Linked DNA regions of Homo sapiens: region 1 is linked to region 2. A link means that fine-mapping ties the variant in region 2 to the expression of a gene that starts in the linked region. Tissue or cell type: blood mononuclear cells. Region 2 holds a variant in brackets; the other region holds the start of a gene. All regions are shown on one strand. Distances are between the middles of the regions. Region 1 holds the start of MCMBP (minichromosome maintenance complex binding protein). Region 2 overlaps MCMBP (minichromosome maintenance complex binding protein).

Region 1 (10,103 bases), 27 kb before region 2:
TTTTATCTTCTTGGTCATCATCACATATGTGAGTCCTTCGCATCCCCCCAGCCTCCCAATATAGTTAACTATAAAGTTGGTTAGATCAATGTTCAAATTTTAACTTTATTGTGACTATGTAAACACTTTTAATAGCAAGTCATATACTAAATTGTAACTATTTTAGTTTTCCTGTACAAGTTTTTGTTTTTGCAGTCTTAAAGCTTAAAAATCTTTCCCCCACAATTTTCACCTAATTTACTGTTATTTATCTTTCAAATTCTAGTGTAAGTGTCACATTTTCAGAGAAGCCCTGAAGCATCCTTTTCTCCTACCCCACAATTCTTCCCCATTCTCTTGTTTTAGAGCATTTTGTGCTGCCATAACATTGCCACAGACTGGGTAATTTATAAAGAAAATTTATTGGCTGGGCGCGGTGGCTCACGCCTCTAATCCCAGCACTTTGGGAGGCTGAGGCAGGCGGATCACCTGGGATTAGGAGTTTGAGACCAGCCTAACCAACATGGAGAAACCCCGTCTCTACTGAAAACACAAAATTAGCCGGCCATGGTGGCACATGCCTGTAATCCCACCTACTCAGGAGGCTGAGGCAGGAGAATCGCTTGAACCTGGGAGGCGGAGGTTGCGGTGAGCCAAGATCGCGCCATTGCACTCCAGCCTGGGCAATAAGAGCCAAACTCTGTCTCAAAAATATATATAATAATAATAAATAAATAAATTTATTTCTCACAGTTCTGGAGGCTGGGAAGTTCAATATCAACATGCTGGCATCTGACAAGGGCTTTCTTGCTGCATCATCATAAGGCAAAGGGAAAAAGGGTGAGAGAAGGTGAAAGAGCATAAGCAAGAGCACGCATGTGTGTGAGTGTGTGTCTGTGCGTGCCTGCACACACGCGGAAGAAAGAGCCAAACTCACTTTTATAACCAACCCACTCCTGCAATAGTGACATTAATCCCTTCATAAGGGCCCTGCCCCTGCCCCTTAAAGTTCCTACCTCTCAACACTGTTGCATTGGGGATTAAGTTTCCAACACCCAAACTCTGGGGGACACATTCAACCCTTAGCATTCCCTCACTAGAACATATACACATCTGTTTATTCCTCTTATAAATATTCATCTATTCTTGCCTAGCACCTCTCGTGAGTAATTAGTAATAAGTCTTCTGCTAGACTGTATGTTCCATGAGGGCAGAGATGGAATCTCTTTTTTCACCCCATATTTCCAGTGCTCTCTCAGTAATTTTTTTGTTTGTTTTTGTTTTTTTGTTTGTTTTTGAGACGTAGTTTCACTCTGTCGCCCAGGCTAGAGTGCAGTGGCACGCTCTCGGCTCAATGCAACCTCCACCCCCAGGGTTCCCCCAATTCTCCCGCCTCAGCCTCCCAAGTATCTGGGACTACCAGCACGTGCCACCACGCCCAGCTAATTTTTTGTATTTTTTTTTAGTAGAGACGGGGTTTCACCATGTTAGCCAGGATGGTCTCGATCTCCTGACTTCGTGATCCGCCCGCCTCGGCCTCCTAAAGTGCTGGGATTACAGGCGTGAGCCACCGCGCCTGGCTGCTCTCTCAGTAATTTTTTATAGACAGAGTTACTTAATGCCCTCCATAAAAATACAGGCTCGCGGTCGGGGCAGAAGTGTGGTTACTGATAGTGGGAAAAAAGAAATCTTGCCATAGAAACAGACCTTCATGAACACTCCCCTGGCCTTTTACATTTTCATGACTACTTATTATTATTGTCATTGTTATTATTTTTAGAAATGGAGTGTTCCTCTGTCTCCCAGGCTGGAGTGCAGTGGTGCGATCATAGTTCACTGTAACCTCGAACTCCTGGGCTCAAGTGATCCTCCCACCTCAGTCTCCCAAGTATCTGAGACTACAAGTGCACACTACCTCCCCCAGCTCCATAACTACTTAGTATCAAAACGTCTTGCCACAGAAAAATCAGAGGGTTAAATTATTCACATTATAAAATAATTACATTTCAGAAGGATCACAGTGTCTCCTTAAGTAAAATCCGAGCAATTTTTTTTTTATAAATCACTAAATACTCTACCAAGGAAGAAACCAAAAGAAGTTTTCACAGAGATGGGATTCACGACTTGCTACCCCAAAATATGGCACCTTGGCATATTAAGTATTTTAAGCTGAAGGAATTTGAGAAATAGCACATGCAGGAAAGGCTCCCTGGCCTTCCCCTGAAGCAGATTATAAGACCCTGACATGAGAGCTGCCCTCCCTCTTCCTGGAGGACAGGAGCATCCTATCTTAAAGATGAAGGGACACGGAAAGGAATCTAATGCACAGGCCTTGCTAAATTTCCCCTAGTTTGCTGGACTTAGCTCACAACCTTTGTCCTATCACATTCTTCTATGACTCTCTTCATCAAACCTAGCATAAAAACACTTGGTTTTAACGCTTCTTTGGATCTTCATTTCCTTATGAAGGCTCCCATTTCTTGTAAAACGTGTATGAAATAAAGTGCATGCTTTTCTCTTGTTAATCTATCTTTTGTTACAGGGGGTCCAACGTAGAATCTAGAAGGGTAGACGGAAAAGATATTTTTCCTCCCTTACACTAGCCACTGCTGAATTGGTATCAAGCTGCAATTTAGATAAAGTAAATTTGAATTTACAGGGATTTAAGAGCAGACATTTCCATATCATACATTTAATTTGCCTGTTACTGGCCATGAAGCGAAAATATGGGATTTCCCCTTTTGATGCCAGGGTCTTGGCAACCCTGTCTCTTAAATGAATGAATGGAATGGTGGTAATGACCTGGATTTGAAACTCAAGTTTTCTCAACGTACCCAAACTCACAGGAACCAGATGTACAATTGAGTGTGTCAATTAATTACCTTACACTAAGAAATACAAACTATTCGTTTTTGCCCTGAAGTAAACCAGAATGTCACCCCAAAATGTGCCACTTTGGCATAAGGATTATTTTCATATTATTAATTTAATTATAATATTATTATCTTGGTAACTGAAAAGTAGATCCAGACAGTCCCCAACTTAACGGTGGTTTGACAAGATTTTTTGACTTTATGATGGTGTGAAAGCAACACCCATTCAGTAGAAACCATACTTCAATTACCCACACAGCCATTCTGTTTTTAAATTTCAGTACAGTATTCAATAAATTGCATGAGATATTCAACATTTTATTATAAAACGGGCTTTGTGTTAGATGCTTTTGCCCAACCGTAGGCTAATGTAAGTGTTCTGAGCATGTTTGCAGTAGCCTACTGATGTTTGATAGGTTCCGTGTATTAAACACATTTTCAACTAATGACATTTTATTTTTTTGAGACGGAGTCTCGCTCTGTCACCAGGCCGGAGTGCAGTGGCATGATCTTGGCTCACTGCAACCTCCGCCTCCCGGGTTCAAGTGATTCTCCTGCCTCAGCCTCCAGAGTAGCTGGGACTACAGGCGTGCGCCACCAGGCCCAGCTAATTTTTGTATTTTTAGTAGAGATGGGGATTCACCATGTTGGCCAGGATGGTCTCCATTTCTTGACCTCATGATCCGCCCGCCTTGGCCTCCCAGAGTATTGGGATTACAGGAGTGAGGCTCCACGCTGGGCCTCAACTAATGATATTTTCAATTTACAATGGGTTTATTGGGATGTAACTCCATCCTAAGTAGAGTAAGTAGAGGAGCATCTGTACAAAACAAGCTCCCTACCCTTCCACTATGTACCTAAGAGCAGGACATACATTTTCAAAGGTGTCCCACCTCCTCTTTCTACCAGGGACAAAAGTTAGTCACCAGAGACAACTTTAGACCCTTATCAGCCAGCGATGGCGCTAGAAGAACCTACATAACACACTTTACTCACTACCTGTAACTACCATTAGTTTCTCGTATCTCTGCCTTCCCACTCTGCTGTTTTTGGAAACTTCAAACTGCTTTCGCCATTTCTCCCCAGTTATTGTTCTTTATTGTAAATGCTACGTAATTCCCCCATTCTAAGCCACCTGTTTGAGTTACTCTTCCTTGAGTTTTGCCCATATAAGATGTACATGTTACTAAATTTTTCTTTTGCCAATCCGAGCTTTGTGATAAGGGCCGCAGTGGAGAACCTAGAAAGGTAGAAAGATTTTCCCCCCTTCCTACAGCCCCAAGGAGGGTTTGAGACACGGGTTCCGTTTTTTTCCTTCAGCTCCTCACTTTGTAGATTCCATTCAGGTCATTCCCCTTCCGTCACCATGCCCTTTTTTCATTGAGTAGATATATCTGATGGGCCTGGGGTTTTCTTAGGTACATTTCAGGCCCAGGGGAGACACAGTTTCATTCTTTTTTTCTTTTTTATCGGACAGCCTCCTGAACCAGAAGAGGTTCAGAGCGACTCCCACAGTTTCACTCTTGAACTTGGGTATTTTCCAAATTGCCTCAGCAAAAGGCTGCTGTAGTCGGTCTTCGTAGCTTCCTTCTCCAGGGTATCCTAGCGGCGCGCAGTGCAGGAGCCTCGCACCGCTCCCCGACGGCGGCTGCCAGCTTCCAGACAGACGCCGACCCGGTGTTCGCAACCAGGGCGCAGGCCGGGCCCGGAGCGTTTAGAGCGCCCGCCCCTCGGTAAGGAACCGTCCCTGAGCCACAGGGCCTGACGCGACTGCAGAAGGAGCGTGGGGTCCTCCGAGGTTCCCCTTCTCTAAATGTGCACCTTCCTCAGGGAGACCTTGTGCAGCTGAGGGAAAAGTCACCACTCAGGGTTTCGGGCCGGGGACCCAAATAAAAGTGCTGCCATCAGCAAAAAAAGAAAAAAAAGGCACGAAGAGGAGGTGGGCGGATTCCCAAGGCGGTTTCGCCCACTAATTTTGCCCAGAGATGACTCTGAGGTCTCTGAGCTTAATGCTTTTCAGCTGTTGTGCAGACTCGCTTTGCCCTCTTATAAGCCCACTATGGGAGTTCCCGCTACACGCCGGCCCAGGGGTACAAACGACAACGCGCCGCCCTTGGAGCGCGTCGCCGGGCCCCGCGCTGCGCAGCCTCCAGCGGCGCTGCGTGCCCTTCCTTTTGCCCGTCTCCAAGATGGCGGCGCCGCCGCCGCCCCTCCTCCTCGCCGCGCAGAGCCGCGCTGCGCCGCGCGCTCCCGCCGCCCCTCCCCACGCGAGCTCCACCCAGGTCGCAGGCAGCGCGGTCGGCGGCGGCTATTTCCCGCCATTGTGCGAAGTGAAGGCTAGGGGCCCGTACGCGCCCGCCTGACTGTCGCCAGCAGCTCCTCGGCGGCCCCACCGCAGCCGCCGCTCCCTGAGGCGCGGGAGGCCCGCGCCCCGCGGCTCGCTGTGCGTGGGAGGGCGCGAGCGAACGCGGGCGAGGAGCGGCCGAGCCGCTGAAGAGGAGCTGGGCGCCGGCCGCCCGGCCGCGCTCGGCCCGCGGATCGCCTCCGCCCGGTCTTCGCCGGCCCCGGCCCCTGGCGAGATGCCGTGTGGGGAGGATTGGCTCAGCCACCCGCTGGGAATCGTGCAGGGATTCTTCGGTGAGTGGCGGCGCCGGGGGGCGGGCCGGGCGGGCAGCCGAGTTTGCCGGGCCCCGGGGCAGGGCCCCGCCGCGCGGCCCCCACGCGGTACCATCTCGAGGGCTCGCGTGGCCCGAGACGGGGCCCCGGGGCCTGCACCGGCCCCAGCTGGGACAGCCTCTCCCCCGGTCGCAGCAGGCAGGGGCAGGAGCCGGGCCGCAGGTACCTCCCACCTGCCCGAGTCGCAGCTTGGGAGCCGCCAAGGTGAAGTCGTGGGGCGCGGGCTGTGATTCGCGGGCTGTGATTGACGGCCTCGCTCCCAGCCTGTGGCAGGGCCAGGGCCCCGGCCCCGGGCGCAGCAAACTCGGAGGTCCTCGAACCCTGGGGAGGGCCCGCAGAGCCGCGGGGAGGGAAAACCACTTTGCCTGTGGGAAGCCCACAGGATATTTCAAAACTTCCGGTGCGTCGGGGAGTGCTCGCTTGCACAGAAGTTGGTTCTAACTCCTGTGCTACCCTCATTCTCTCTTTCAGAGATAAGATTTAATGTTCATAGCTTAGTTTTCCTGTTGGGATGACTTTAGAACCCATCTAGTCTGGATCTGCTCCTGTGCCAGAGCCAGCAAGAAATATTGAGCTACTTGAGTTTGTACACAGGGCTGAGAATCCTGCAGGCGAGCTTAGTAAATTTTGGTTGCGATTGCTGTTGCTACTTTACTGCGAAGGGTATACGAAGAAAAGTTTATATTTGTTGTCGTTAACTGGGCATTTTGACAACCGTTCCATTCCCCAGTGTCTTTTTACACGTAATGAGTGGCGGAGTCAGATCCAGCTAGAAATCACTGTAGATGGCAACACCTGACTTGTCTGGAGTTAACTTAGAGTTGTAGAGCGGCCTTAGCTCATTGAAAAAAACATCTTGGGGTACTAGAGAGAAAAGGCAGTGGGAAGCTAAATCATCCTCAGCAGCCAAAATCGACGGCAAACAATGTATGGTATTTCTTATAGGAGGGCCTCTAGTGCTTACTCAGGAAGTCCTTATTAATTTACCTGTAATTCTAATTAGTTTAGTTACCTGGCTTCCCAGGCTGTAACTAATGGCATTATATTAGAAAAAAGCCTGGATAGACGTCCGAACTTAGCCAGTGAACACTGACAGCCTGATGAAGAAATTTAAAACTACCTTCATACTTGAAAAAAAAAAAAATTCACTATATAGCAGTCAAGGGTGCTTTGAGGAAGGGGCATATATTTCTCCACTAAATCCTAGTAATTTATGTTCATAAGAATTCTAGAAATGATAATCGATGGTCAACACAATGGCCCCAAAATGTCAAGTGAAGATTCAATTGTAGCATTGGTTTAAGAGGGTGCAGATGCATAGATACTTTTTAGGAAAAATCCCTCCAAAGTAAAAAGGTTTGGTGCTTAAAGGGTTAAATTTCAGTTACTAATATTAGAAAGTTTATTTATTAGAAATACCCCATACTCTGATTTTGCTGGATAAATGAGATGATTTCATATTTGATAGAGATTTGAATGTATTTGTGTCAAATTTTGTCTTCTAAATGTATGATCCTAAGGGACACATCTCATCATAGTACAGGAAGGATGTAACTTAGATATAAAATAATAGCTTCAGAGTATTTTATAAATTATGTGGATTGTTGTGGGAACCTGAGAAGTTTCTTGATGTGTTTCTCCCCAGAATGTCTTGTTCCCGTGTACGTTGTGTCTTATAGAAAAGTCATAATGTGTTCGTAGAAGCTGTTGCTATATTTTCGTATCACTGTGATTGTATTGCATATCTTTATTATAACAGCATTACAAGTATGTTTGTGTGATAACTTATAGGCACTTTTTGGTTTAGTAGGAAATTGTTTTCCCCCCAGATAGGTAATGCATATGCATTGTACAGAAAGAAAAAAGCAGTTCAGCAACATATAGCAGAAAAGGAAAGATCTTTGAAGATCCTTCACCTTCAAGATAACCACTGGTTCGTGGTTGTGTAGTTTATTTTCTCTGCATATATTTAGACAGTTTTTTTAAACTGAAAAGTTAAGTTTTGTTGTGTATTTTATTTTGAAATATGCATTTTTTTTTTTTGAGACAGTCTCGCACTGTCACCCAGGCTGGAGTGCAGTAGCGCAATCTCGGCTCACTGCAACCTCCGCCTCCTGGGTTGAAGCGATTCTCCTGCCCCAGCCTCCGGAGTAGCTGAGACTATAGGCCCGCGCCACCACGCCCGGCTAATTTTTGTATTTTTAGTAGAGACGGGGTTTCACAGTGTTGGCCAGGATGGTCTAGATCTCTTGACCTCGTGATCCGCCCGCCTCGGCCTCTCAAAGTGCTGGGATTACAGGCGTGAGCCACTGCATCCAGCAGCCTGAATTTTTCCCTTTCTTACTGTCCTTGTCATATAGTATTGTATAAACTTATTAACCCTGTCATATATTTTAAGTTAGGTGTCACAATAATCTAGAGTGTGCTGTCCAGGGCAGTAGCCATGTGTGGCTATTTAAATGTAAATTAATTAAAATTACACAAAATTAAAAATTCACCTCCTCGGTGTTAGCACATTTCAAGTGCTCAGTAGCTACATGTGGATAGGGGCTATTATATTAGCACAGATCTAGCATATTCCTAACATCAGGAAGTTCTCTGTACAGCACTGATCTAGAGGACACCGCTTTTTAGTATGTGATGCTAGTTTTTTTGGATAACCAGCTACTCACTGACTCTCTTTCAGGATCTGAATTTGGTCACTGTATCTTATCCGTTCTAGGGGTTTTGTTTTTGTTTTTGCTTTTTTTGTTTTTGAGATGGAGTTTCGTTCTTGTCACCCAGGCTGGAGTGCAACAGTGTGATCTCGGCTCACTGCAACCTCCTCCTCCCAGGTTCAAGCAATTCTGCCTCAGCCTCTGGAGTAGCTGGGATTACAAGTGCCTGCCACCATGCCCAGCTAATTTTTTTTTTTTTGAGACTGAGTCTTGCTCTGTCACTCAGGCTAGGGCGCAGTGTTACAATCTTGGCTCACTGCAGCCTCTGCCTCTTGGGTTCAAGTGATTCTCCTGCCTCAGCCCCCTGAGTAGCTGGGATTACAGGTGCATGCCACCATGCCCAGCTAATTTTTGTATTTTTAGTAAAGACAGGGTTTCACCATGTTGGCCAGGCTGGTCTTGAACTCCTGACCTAGTGATCCGCCCACCTTGGCCTCCCAAAGTGCTGGGATTGTAGGCGTGAGCCACCACACCGAGCCGCTAATTTTTGTATTTTTAGTAGAGACAGGATTTCACCATGTTAGCAAGGCTGGTCTCGAACAGGTGATCTGCCTGCCTCGGCCTCTCAAAGTGCTGGGATTATAGGCGTGAGCCACCGCGCCCGACCCAGACCCTCATCTCCAATGCTACTGTCAAAATTAAAGCCATCGTAGTCTCTTTCCTGGACGCTGGAACAGCCCTCTAACTGGTTTCTTGCCTCCAGTCTTGCTTCTCTTCCACCTGCCATACTGGAACCAAGTCCTTCAGTGACTTCTTGTTACCCTTACTATCTGATCCAGGACTTTTAAAGTGGTTTATGAGGCCCTTGTTGGCTCCACCCTTGCCTTGCTCTGAGACTTTATCACTGCGTACCCCCTCCTCATACTCCATCCCAGCCGCACTGAACCTTTTTTCAGTTCTTTAATTTTGAACCTGTGTCTAGGCCTTTTTGCATCTGCTGATTTCTTGTGCCTGATTCCCCCTCCCATCCCATGTCCACTTTTCTGGCTAAGTCTTACTTTTCCTTTGGGAACTTAAGTTAGGTACCAAAGTAGGGTACCCCTGCTCCATGTTACTGCAGGATCCTATTATATATGTCTTTGAAAAATAGTGTGTAAAGTGCATTGTTGAAATTCCTTGTTTCGGAAGTTCCTTTGCTGGATTTTGACCCCGCGAATTCAGGGCCCCTGTATCTGCATTATTCACCACTGTATCCTAATTTCTTAGAATTTGCCTTGTACATTGAAAGTGCTCAGTGGACACTTGTTGAACAAAAGCAGTGAAAAGACTGATTAATCAGAAATGTTGTTAATTGAAATGGCTAGTGAGATCACAAATCTCAAAATTTTTCTTTTCTTTTTTTCTGGAGTCAGTGTCTTGCTCTGTTGCCCAGGGTGGAGTGCAGTGGCGTGATCTCGGCTCACTGCAACCTCCGCCTTCTGGGTTCAAGCCATTCTCATGCCTCAGCCTCTCGAGTAGCTGGGATTAAAAGTGTGCACCACCATGCCTGGCTAATTTTTCTATTTTTAATAGAGACAGGGTTTTGCCATGTTGGCCAGGCTGGTCTTGAACTCCTGGCCTCAAGTGATCTGCCCCCACTTGGCCTCCCAGAGTGCTGAGATCTCAGGTGTGAGCTGCTGCGCCCAGCCTCTTTAGCTGTTTTCCCTTCAACTATTGGTTAGACCAAGATCATTATTCTCGTTATATTTAAGCTTCTTTGGTTGTATCTAACAGAACTAGACTAGCTCATGCAAAAAAGAGCAGGGTTGGGTGAAGAGGGGCAGAGCAGACTATTTTATCACTAGCATTTTAGAGAATTTAAAGCAATAATAAAATGAACTAAAAGTTAGTTGGTCTGCTTTTTATTATCACCATGAAT
Region 2 (10,103 bases):
TTAAACTTTTTATTTTGACACAGTATAGACTTACATGCAGTTGTAAGAAATAATACAGAGAGGCTGGTTGCGGTGGCTCACACCTATAATCCCAGCCCTTCAGGAGGCCGAGGCAGGCACATCACTTGAGGTCAGGAGTTCCAGTCTGGCAAACATGGTGAAACCCCATCTCTACTAAAAATACAAAAATTAGCTGGGCATGGTGGTGCACGCCTGTAATCCCAGCTACTTGGGAGACTGAGGCAGGAGAATTGCTTGAACCCGGGAGGCGAAGGTTGCAGTGAGCGCTGATCGCCACCATGCTCCAGCCTGGGTGACAGGGTGAGACTCTGTCTCAAAAAAAAAAAAAAAAAACAGATCTTGTATACCTTTTAGCCTCTACTTCCCCCAGTGGTAATACCTTACGTAATTATAGTAGAATGTCATAACCAGGAAGTGGATATTGATACAATCATTTTTTTTCCTTTTTTTTTTTTTTTTTAGACGGAGTCTTGCTCTGTCACCCAGACTGGAGTGCAGTGGTGCAATCTCTGCTCACTGCAAGCTCCGCCTCCTGGGTTCACGCCATTCTCCTGCCTCAGCCTCCCGAGTAGCTGGGACTACAGGCCCCCATCACCACGCCTGGCTAATTTTTTGTATTTTTAGTAGAGACGGGGTTTCACCGTGTTAGCCAGGATGGTCTCAATCTCCTGACCTCGTGATCCACCTGCCTCAGCCTCCCAAAGTGCTGGGATTACAGGCTTGAGCCACTGCACCTGGCCTGTTCTTTGCAGTTTTATCGCATAGGTAGATTCATGTGACCACCACCACAGTTAAAATCGGGAATATTTCATTACCCAGATCTCTCATGTTGCCCTTTTATGCTCCTAACTACCACTCTCCTGCCTCCTCCGTCCCCAGAAGTCTCTAGACCCTAGCAACCACTGGTCTCTTCTCCATCTCTTATAATTTTGTCATTTTAAGAATGGAATTGTATATTACATAAACTTTGGGGATTGTCTTTTCTTCAGCACAATTCCCTTGAGATCCATCCCAATTGTTGCATGTATCAGTAGTTTGTCCGTTTTATTGCTGAGTGGTGTTTCGTGGTATGGCAGGCTATAATTTGATTCTCATGTTATCAGCCCTAAAGTGTAACTACTTCAGGAGTTGGGGTTATTCTTTTAATGACCTGTATATCCCCAACAACTGGTTTGATTCCTGGTACATACTGGATATTAATAAGTATTTGGTAAATTAATTTATTGCTGTATGGTTTTATTCTGCTTAATTAATAGAAAAAGTATGTTCTACCAAGGAGTTTTGCTGTCGGTAGACCATGTATTCCTTAAATCAAAGATGTCAAAGTAACCATATTGCAAATCAACTTTTGAAACTGGTTATACATGAGATTTGATGGGAGGAATTTGTTGATATCTTACAGTAAGGGAAAAAAAAGTAAAATTTTTAGATCTTCATGTTTATCTTTGTCCTCTTACAGATCAAACAAAAGACTTTGTTAGTATGTGCTGTTTCCTTAAAAACTGTAACAACTTGAACTTTGCAAGCTCAGAAGCATCACGTATATCAAACTTGAAAGGCACTTATGGAATGTTCTTTTTCTCCAGGAGGCCTTAGAAATGACTAAGTGCAATGCTATCCTTTGAATTTAGGGAGTGTTGGTGGTCTTCAATGGTGTGGAGAGCCAAAACGTTTAGAAACTGAAGCTTCTACTGGGCAACAGCTGAACTCTCTGAACTTGTCTTCTCCTTTTGATTTGAATTTTCCATTGCCAGGAGAGAAGGGCCCTGCATGCCTTGTGAAGGTAATAAAACCTTTCGTAGATCCAACACTGAAATGTTATGTGTCTCAGAAAGTAGCTTAGTGTCTGAGCATTTGCATTTGTTCCCTTGTGCTGGGCTAGCTATAGCAAATCACTGCAAATTTAATAGCCTAAAGCAGCAAAAGTTTATCATCTTACAGGCTTTAGGTCAGAAATCCAACATGGTCTCACTGGGGTAAACTCGAGGTGCCAGCAGGGCTACATTCCTTTCTCGGAGCCCCTAAGGGAGAATTTCCTTGGCCTTGTGGCTCCTTCTTCCATATTCATAGCCAGCAACATTGCATTTGTCTGACCATTTTTTTCATGTTGACATCTCATCTGACCACAACCAAGAAAGTTTCCCCAATTTTAAGAATCCGTGTGATTACATGGGGCCCAGCCAGTTAATCGAGGATAATCCCCCCCATTTCAAGGTTATTAATTTAATCACACCTGCACATTCCTTTTGCATGTAAGCTAACAAGTTAAAAGAATCGAAGAACATCTCAAATGCAGAAGCAGAACAACTTTTAAATTATGTCTGTTCCCTTCCTGTATCATTTCTAACATAATATCTTCTTCATTTTTGTCTTCTTCCTTCTCTCAGCAAAACCTATTTTTCACTTATATTTAAAATAAAACAGAAGGAAGAAAACTTTTAATAGTTTGTTCTTCCATCTTACTTATTCTAGTGTTTTGATCCTGATAAATGAGCAAGTGATAGAAGGTTCAGAAATGATTGTTAAGGATTTCTATCCTTATTCTTTGTGCATTTTGGGTTTTTTTGTTTTTGGGGGGTTTTTTTGTTTGTTTTTTTGAGGCAGTCTCACTCTCTTGTCCAGGCTGGTGTGCAGTGGCACGATCTCGGCTCACTGCAACTTCTACCTCCTGGGTTCAGGCAATTCTCGTGCCTCAGCCTCCTGAGTAGCTGAGATTACAGGCATGCACCACCACACCCAGCTCGTTCTTTATATTTTTTGTAGAGATGGGGTTTCACTATGTTGGCCAGGCTGGTCTCGAACTCCTGACCTCAAGTGACCCACCCACCTCAGCCTCCCAAAGTTCTGGGATTCCAGGGGTGAGCCACTGCACCCAGATTCTCAGTGGTTTTAACTGAAATGACACTTAAGTCATATGGCACAGGGACCAAAATTACCATTTTTTCCCCTGCCTTGCTTCTACCAGGTCTAATCAGTAAATGGCCTTGACTATTACTAAGTCCATCATGACAGACAATTTTGAAAGGTTTTTTTTTTTTTTTAAATTGTGAAAAATCTTCTGGCCATTCCAAGTTTTGTGTTAATCCGATGTTGCAGTTTATGAATAAATGCAAAGTTAATCATCTTGTTTTTGTTTTTTCCTTTTCTTGGTGTGGTTTAATAGGTTTTGAGATAGTGCACAGTTCTAGTTTTAACTGTCAGCCTTTGGGAAAAGGCTTTTTTTAATTTTAGGAAAAGCCTTTTTTTTTTGTAGTACTGTGGTATATTGAAAACAGACATTAGTCTGGAAGTTAGGCATCCTGTGTTTTGGTTTTTCACTTATTTGCTAACTAGCAGAATGACTCTTGGTCTCAATTTATAAAAATTTATAAAATAAAGGACTTGCTTTAAGGTCTGTTTCCTGATCTAAAATTCCAAGATATTGGTACTTCAAGACTAATATCTTAAGCTTTGTGTCTGTTCTAACAGTGTGATTTCATGTGGTCTCTTGTTAGGTTTATGAAGATTGGGATTGTTTCAAAGTAAATGACATTCTTGAGCTATATGGCATACTGTCTGTGGATCCTGTGCTGAGTATACTGAATAATGATGAAAGGTGAGTCTGTGTGCTCTTTTTTTGGTCTCCTTTATTTTTATATAATTTCAAGTTTTCAGGAGAGTTACAGGATGGTTTTAAAGAACTCCCTTTTCCCTTTCTCCCAGATGTACCAGTTGTAAACACTTGCACCCCATGTGTTTTGTCATTCATTTGTGCTCTCTATGCACACATTTTTCTGAAACACTTGAAAGTATGTTGCAGAAATCAAGCCCTTTTACCCCTAACTGCTTGTCAACATTTCCTAAGAGTACTGACTTTCTCATATATAATTAGAGTACAGGTATCAAAACTAGGAAATTTGCCACAAATATACAATACACTAATCCACAATCTATACTTAATTTCACTAATTGTCTTAATCATGTTCTTTCTTACACGTCTCCCTTCTGCATCCCCCAGTCCAGGGTTCAGAAGCTCGCTCATTCTCTATTTCTACTGAGTTCATACTGTATTTCTGATTCCAGTTCAGCACCACAGGTGTCGTTCTGCTTGTTCTCCTTTCTGTATTAGTGTAACTCTCTTAAACTTGATTCCCATTTTTCACAATCTTATCATTTGCACATTTTTACAACATAGAGAAGGGAATTTCAGAATTGTTAACTCATACCTTTACAAAACATAAACCTAAATAACTAGAGTTCAATCTGAAACAGTCCTCAGCCTTTGTCTTTCATGGTCTTGCCACTTTTTTTTTTTCCTTAAACAACAGAAATATATGTCTTCCAGTAGTTCTGGAGGCTGGGAAGTCCAAAATCAAGTTCCCAGCAGATCTGGTTTCTAGTGAGGGCCCGCTTCCTGGTTTACAGATGGCTGTCTTCTCACGTGGTAGAGAGCAGACAGCCTTGATGCTTTTGAAGAGTGTAAGCCAGTTACCAGTTACTTGTTTCCTCATGGTTAGACTCAATGTTTTGCATTTTTGGCAGGAATATTACAGAATTGATGTATCCTCAGTATGTTACAGCAGGAGGCATGCGATGTCAGTTTGTCCCTTTACTGGTGAGGTTAATTTTCATTAGTTGGTTAAGGTGGTGACTTCCAGATGTCTCTTCTGTAAAGTTACATTTCTCACTTTGTAATTGACAAGTAACTTGGAGGAAGGTACTTGGGGACATAAATATCCAGTTTCTCATTAAACTTTCACCAATTTATTTTAGCATTCATTGATGATTCTTGCTTGAATCAGTTATTACTTTGTTGGCAATTTTCTAACGCAGTACATTTATTTATTGGCATTCTACTATAAAAGATACCTCTTCCATTTGTTTATTCAAGTAATGTATTTACTTATATTTAGTATAGACTAATAGATTCTGATTTTATTCAATGTTAATATCATTATTTTATTTCGAGACCCAAATTTTCCCAGATTTGGCTAGTGGGAGCCACTTTAAGCAGGTGCCGGGTCCTTTTTTTGAGATGATGTTATCATTTTTTAACATTTATTTTCTGGCATATTAAGCTGTTGCAGCTTCATCGTATGCTTTGAAGATCTGAGTCCTAGATGTGCTCGTTGGTACTGGATTAGATTTGCATCTAGGCCCTTAAAGTAGACAGAGCTAGGATACATGCAGCATATGGATACATATATACGCACCCACATTTAAATGCACACATACACACTCACATGCATGTTTTGTGTATTTCTAATGTCTGTGAAAAACCATGGGTTCATATTTCTGATTCCAGTTCAGCACAGCAGGAGTCACATGTTCTAGTTGTTCTCCTTTCTATATTTATGACTTC[T/C]TTTTCTAACAAATTTGATTCCCATTATTCACAATCTGTTGTTTCCCCATTTCTACCATATACAGAAGGGAATTTCAGAATTGGTAACCCATACCACTACAAAACAGAAACCTAGTAATTAGAGTTCAATACATTTCCAGTTCATTTTTATTTTAGAATGCAGCTGTGTAGTCAGAGCTATGTTCCACTTACTCAGGTAACTTTTCTTCCCCTTCAGTGTGATTTCATTATTTATTTTACTTAGAAAGATTCTCAGAGGTGTCATTCTCGGCTATCCCCATTCCTGCTGTCTGTTCCCACCCAGCCTCCTTAGGGAACCACAGTTTCTGGTTTATCCTTCCTGTATTTATTTTTTTACAAAAATATGAAGATACGTATACATTTTATTTCTACCTTTTTCTTCTATAAAAGGTAACATGGTATATATACTCTTACACTTTTTAATTTTTTTTATTAACAACATATCTTGGAAATCTAGACCTTCCTCATTCATTTTTGTTTTGTTTTGAGATTGCCAAAAGCAAGGGCTGATGTCCCTCATCTACACCAGAGTCCTCTTGTTGAATACCGGACATTAATCATCTTAGTTTCTGTGTAGGATGAACTTAACATTTTTCACAGTTAAAAAAAAATGGTACAAAACAAAAATTTTAAACAACTTTAAATAAGCTTAACCGTCCCTTAATAATAGTATATGAGATTGTTCATCTTGGCAATTTCTGATTGTGATGACTTTCCTGCTTTAGTTACTTCACTATTGATGTAGTTTAGTTTAGAGGTTGTATTAGGGGTCTCTAAAGGGTCAGAACTGATAGGATAGATGAATATATGAAGGGGAGTTTATTAGGAGAATGACTCACATGATCACAAGGTAAAATCCCACAATAGGCTGGGGAGCAAGGAAGCCAGCCTGAGTCCCAAAATCTCAAAAGTAGGGAAGCCACCAGTGTAGGCTTCAGTCCGTGGCTGAAGGCCTAAGAGCTCCTGGTGAACCACTGGTGTAGGTCCAAGAGTCCAAAAGCTGAAGAACTTGGAGTCTGATGTTTGAGGGCAGGAAGCATCCAGCATGAGAGAAAGGTGGAGGCGGAAGACTCAGCCAGTCTGCTCTTTACATGCCTGCCTTTATGCTGGCAGCTGATTAGATGCTGCCCACCCAGACTGAGGGTGGGTCTGCCTCTCCCAGCCCGCTGACTCAAATGTTAATCTCCTTTGGCAACACCCTCACAGACACATCCAGGAACAATAATTTTCATCCTTCAATCCAGTCAGATTGACAAAGTATTAACCATCACAGAGGTTAAGAGCACAGACAGGCAGGCAGCCTGGGTTGGAGTCCTGACTTGGCCACTTACTAGCTATGTCACCTTGGGCTTGGTTTCCTCATTGTAAATAAGGGTAGATGTGAGGTTTTGGTGAATTTGTACGTGTAAGGCATTGAACGTTGTCTGTCACATGGTACGTACTATGGAAAAGGTTATTATGCTTGTATTAAAAAATACAGGAGTATGAATTTATTACTTCAGTGTCTATAGATTCTATAAAGTCAAGATCTAAAAGATTAGCTATTTGTTTTGGTCGTCTCACAAATCTATCATCTGCAGATTTATTTAGCAAGTCTGAAAAATTCATACTTTCATTGCTTGTCTACTCAGTCTTCGAGGGATCATGTAAGAATTAAATTTAGGAAAAACAATTAGCAAGATAAGAGATGAATGGATTCTCCACACGCTGAATAATAGATACCAGATGGCTTTTGAGAAAAAGACCCCAGTTTTTGAGATCTGCTGTCAAGTATTCGATGTCCCGGCCAATAGTTCAAGGAGTACCTGTGTTTTGAAATAGCCTTATGAGTGACATCCTACATTCCATTTATTGAAGTGCTGAATAACAAATATTATTGTTTCTGGCCAGGCATGGTGGCTCACGCCTGTAATCCCAGCACTTTGAGAGGCCAAGGCAGGCAGATCACTTGAGGTCAGGAGTTCGAGACCAGCCTGGCCAACATAGTGAAACCCTGTCTCTACTAAAAATACAAAAATTAGCCAGGCATGGTGGTGTGCACCTGTAATCTCAGCTACTCAGGAGGCTGAGGCATGAGAATCGCTTGAACCCAGGAGGCAGAGGTTGCAATGAGCCAAGATCGCATCACTGCACTCCAGCCTGGGCAACACAGTGAGACTCCATCCAAAAAAAAAATAAAAATAAAAATACCGTTCTTGAAAAATTGAATAAATGCATTATTTCATGATATGTCTTAACAAGCCTGAAGTCTGTGTGATGTAACACTTTAGAATGAGAGGCCACTTTCTGTTCTTTAAGGAGATGTACAGGTGGAAATATTCTTGGCTTTAACTCTAATTTTGTTTTCCAAGATGCACATTATTTTTGCATCTGTGCAATTGATGTCTCTCTAAATTGAAACTTTATCACCTCTCCACAGGGATGCCTCTGCACTGCTGGATCCGATGGAGTGCACAGACACAGCAGAGGAGCAGAGAGTACACAGTCCTCCTGCTTCATTAGTGCCGAGAATTCATGTGATCTTAGCCCAGAAGTTGCAACACATCAACCCATTATTGCCTGCCTGCCTTAACAAAGAGGAGAGCAAAACCTGTAAGTGTAAGTGTTACAGCCTAGTCAACTATCGACTGTTAGCCTCAGTGTGTCCAGAGCTGCCTGTAACGTGCTCATAGTGGAATTGAGAGTCAGGTCTTCATTCCTCACAATAAGTGTTTTCAGTAATCTCTCTCTCGTTGCCCCATTTTTCTCTTACATTAATTCTCTTCACTGAAATGAGGACAAAAGAGTATACAAGGCTGGGTGCAGTGGCTCACGCCTGTAATCTTAGCACTTTAGGAGGCCAAGGTGGGTGGATCACCTGAGGTCAGGAGTTCGAGACTAGCCTGGCCAATATAGTGAAACCCTGGCTCTACTAAAAATACAAAATTAGCCAGGTGTGGTGGCGTGTGCCTGTAATCCCAGCTACTCGGGAGGCTGAGGCAGGAGAACTGGAGGCAGAGGTTGCGGTGAGCTGAGATGGCACCATTGCACTCCAGGCTAGGCAAAAAGAGCAAAACTTGGTCTCAAAAAAAAAAAAAAGGAGGATGCAAACTGCCTTATTTTTAAGATTAGCATCACTTACTGACGGATATGTTAAGCTTTACCTACTGTCGACTGAATTGTGCTTTGCTCACGTAGTTATTTTTTTACCTAAGACACTTGAGAGGAACTGGAGTGTGTGTCCTGACTCAGGTCTTCCTTTCTCCTTCAGTTGTTTCAAGTTTCATGTCCGAATTGTCTCCAGTCAGAGCAGAACTTCTTGGGTTCCTTACTCATGCCCTTCTGGGGGATAGTTTGGCTGCTGAATACCTTATATTACATCTCATCTCCACAGTGTAAGTGCTGTATCCTGGTGGGAATTAGGGGAGTTTGGTGTGTGTGGAAGTGGAAGAGCGGGAAGATTGCTGGTGTCATTTGTGTGTTTTCCTTATTGGGCTTCATCACATGGTTTTTATCTGTCCAGTGTTAACTGTTATACCAAATCACAGACAAATTCCTTTTCTCACAGTTCACATTTAGCATTTTGATTATGTCCCCTTAAATTTTAGAGCCAAAATCAGATAAAGCAGTGGTCCCCAACCTTTTAGGCACCAAGGACCCATTTCATGGAAGACCATTTTTCCATGGACCGGAGTGGGGATGGTTTCAGTATGAAACCGTTCCACCTCAGAACATCAGGCATTAGTTAGATTCTCATAGGGAACACACAGATGTGCAGTTCACAATAGGGTTCGCGCTCCTGTGAGAGTCTGATGCCACTGCTGATCTGACAGGAGGCGGAACTCAGGCGGTAATGCCCACTCATCCACCCCTCACCTCCTATGTTGTGGCCCGGTTCCTAACAGGCCATGAACCAGTACTGGTCCACGGCCTGGGCGTTGGGGACCCCTGAGATAAAGGACCTGGCTGATGAGTAAAATGAGCTGTTTTATCCCTTTTGCATTCTGAACGCTCTGTTTATACATCCCAAGGCGCCCACGTCATGTGCACGTTTAACGTGGACATTGACACTAGCACCGCATCCCTTGACTCCACTGTATTTCTTTGTTTCTCATTTTAAAACTAGTGTGGGCCTTTGACAAGTTCCAAGAACATAAGGAGGAAAATGCACATCATCTGTAATTTCACCACTTAGAACCTCCGTTAACCTTTAGGTACATGTTCATTGGTTTTTGTTTACATATGTATACATCCTTGCATAGGTCTTAGTTACACTCTAAGCACAGATGCGTGTCTTGTTTTCAGCAGTTGATATATATTAAACATTTTCCCATCATAATGCTTCATGAACTTTGTAGTGGCTGCAAAGTATTTCACTATGCAGTTGTACCATACTGTAACCATTTCCCTAAATGTTAGCTTTTCCTAGCTTTTCTCTATTATAAAGTTGCAGGAAACATCTTTGTGCTGTAAATCTTATCTTTTCTCAAATCAGTCTGTGACAGTAGTACATAATGGTTGAGAGCACAGGCTCTGGAACCAAACTACCCGGATTCATATCCCAGCTCTGTCAGCTTCCATTTAGATGAACATGTTGCTTATTATCATCTCTGTGCCTCGGATTTCTCATCTGTGAAGCAAAGACAACAGCACCTACCGCTGAATGGTTAGGGGTTAAATGAGGAAGCATTTACATACTCAGAACGGTCTTTGGCACGTGACCAGCAGCACTTACGTACAA

What was found.
Region 1: MCMBP starts here. The variant in region 2 is fine-mapped to the expression of MCMBP in blood mononuclear cells (TOPMed, PIP 0.96). The same link has a PIP of 0.9 or more in monocytes.

What each region holds. Positions count from the first base shown.
Region 1 is chr10:119,867,913-119,878,015 of GRCh38, reverse strand. It overlaps MCMBP (minichromosome maintenance complex binding protein), which reads left to right and starts at 5,173. Exons shown (of 16, transcript NM_001256378.2): 1 at 5,173-5,489. The coding sequence starts at 5,432. RefSeq lists enhancers at 4,644-4,813, 4,679-4,838 and a silencer at 5,069-5,718.
Region 2 is chr10:119,841,126-119,851,228 of GRCh38, reverse strand. MCMBP (minichromosome maintenance complex binding protein) reads left to right here. Exons shown (of 16, transcript NM_001256378.2): 7 at 1,653-1,804; 8 at 3,516-3,616; 9 at 7,803-7,975; 10 at 8,634-8,757. Among named protein-coding and RNA genes, the nearest start is that of MCMBP, 27 kb to the left of the region's middle. RefSeq lists an enhancer at 233-732. The variant T/C (reference allele first, on the strand shown) is at 5,363.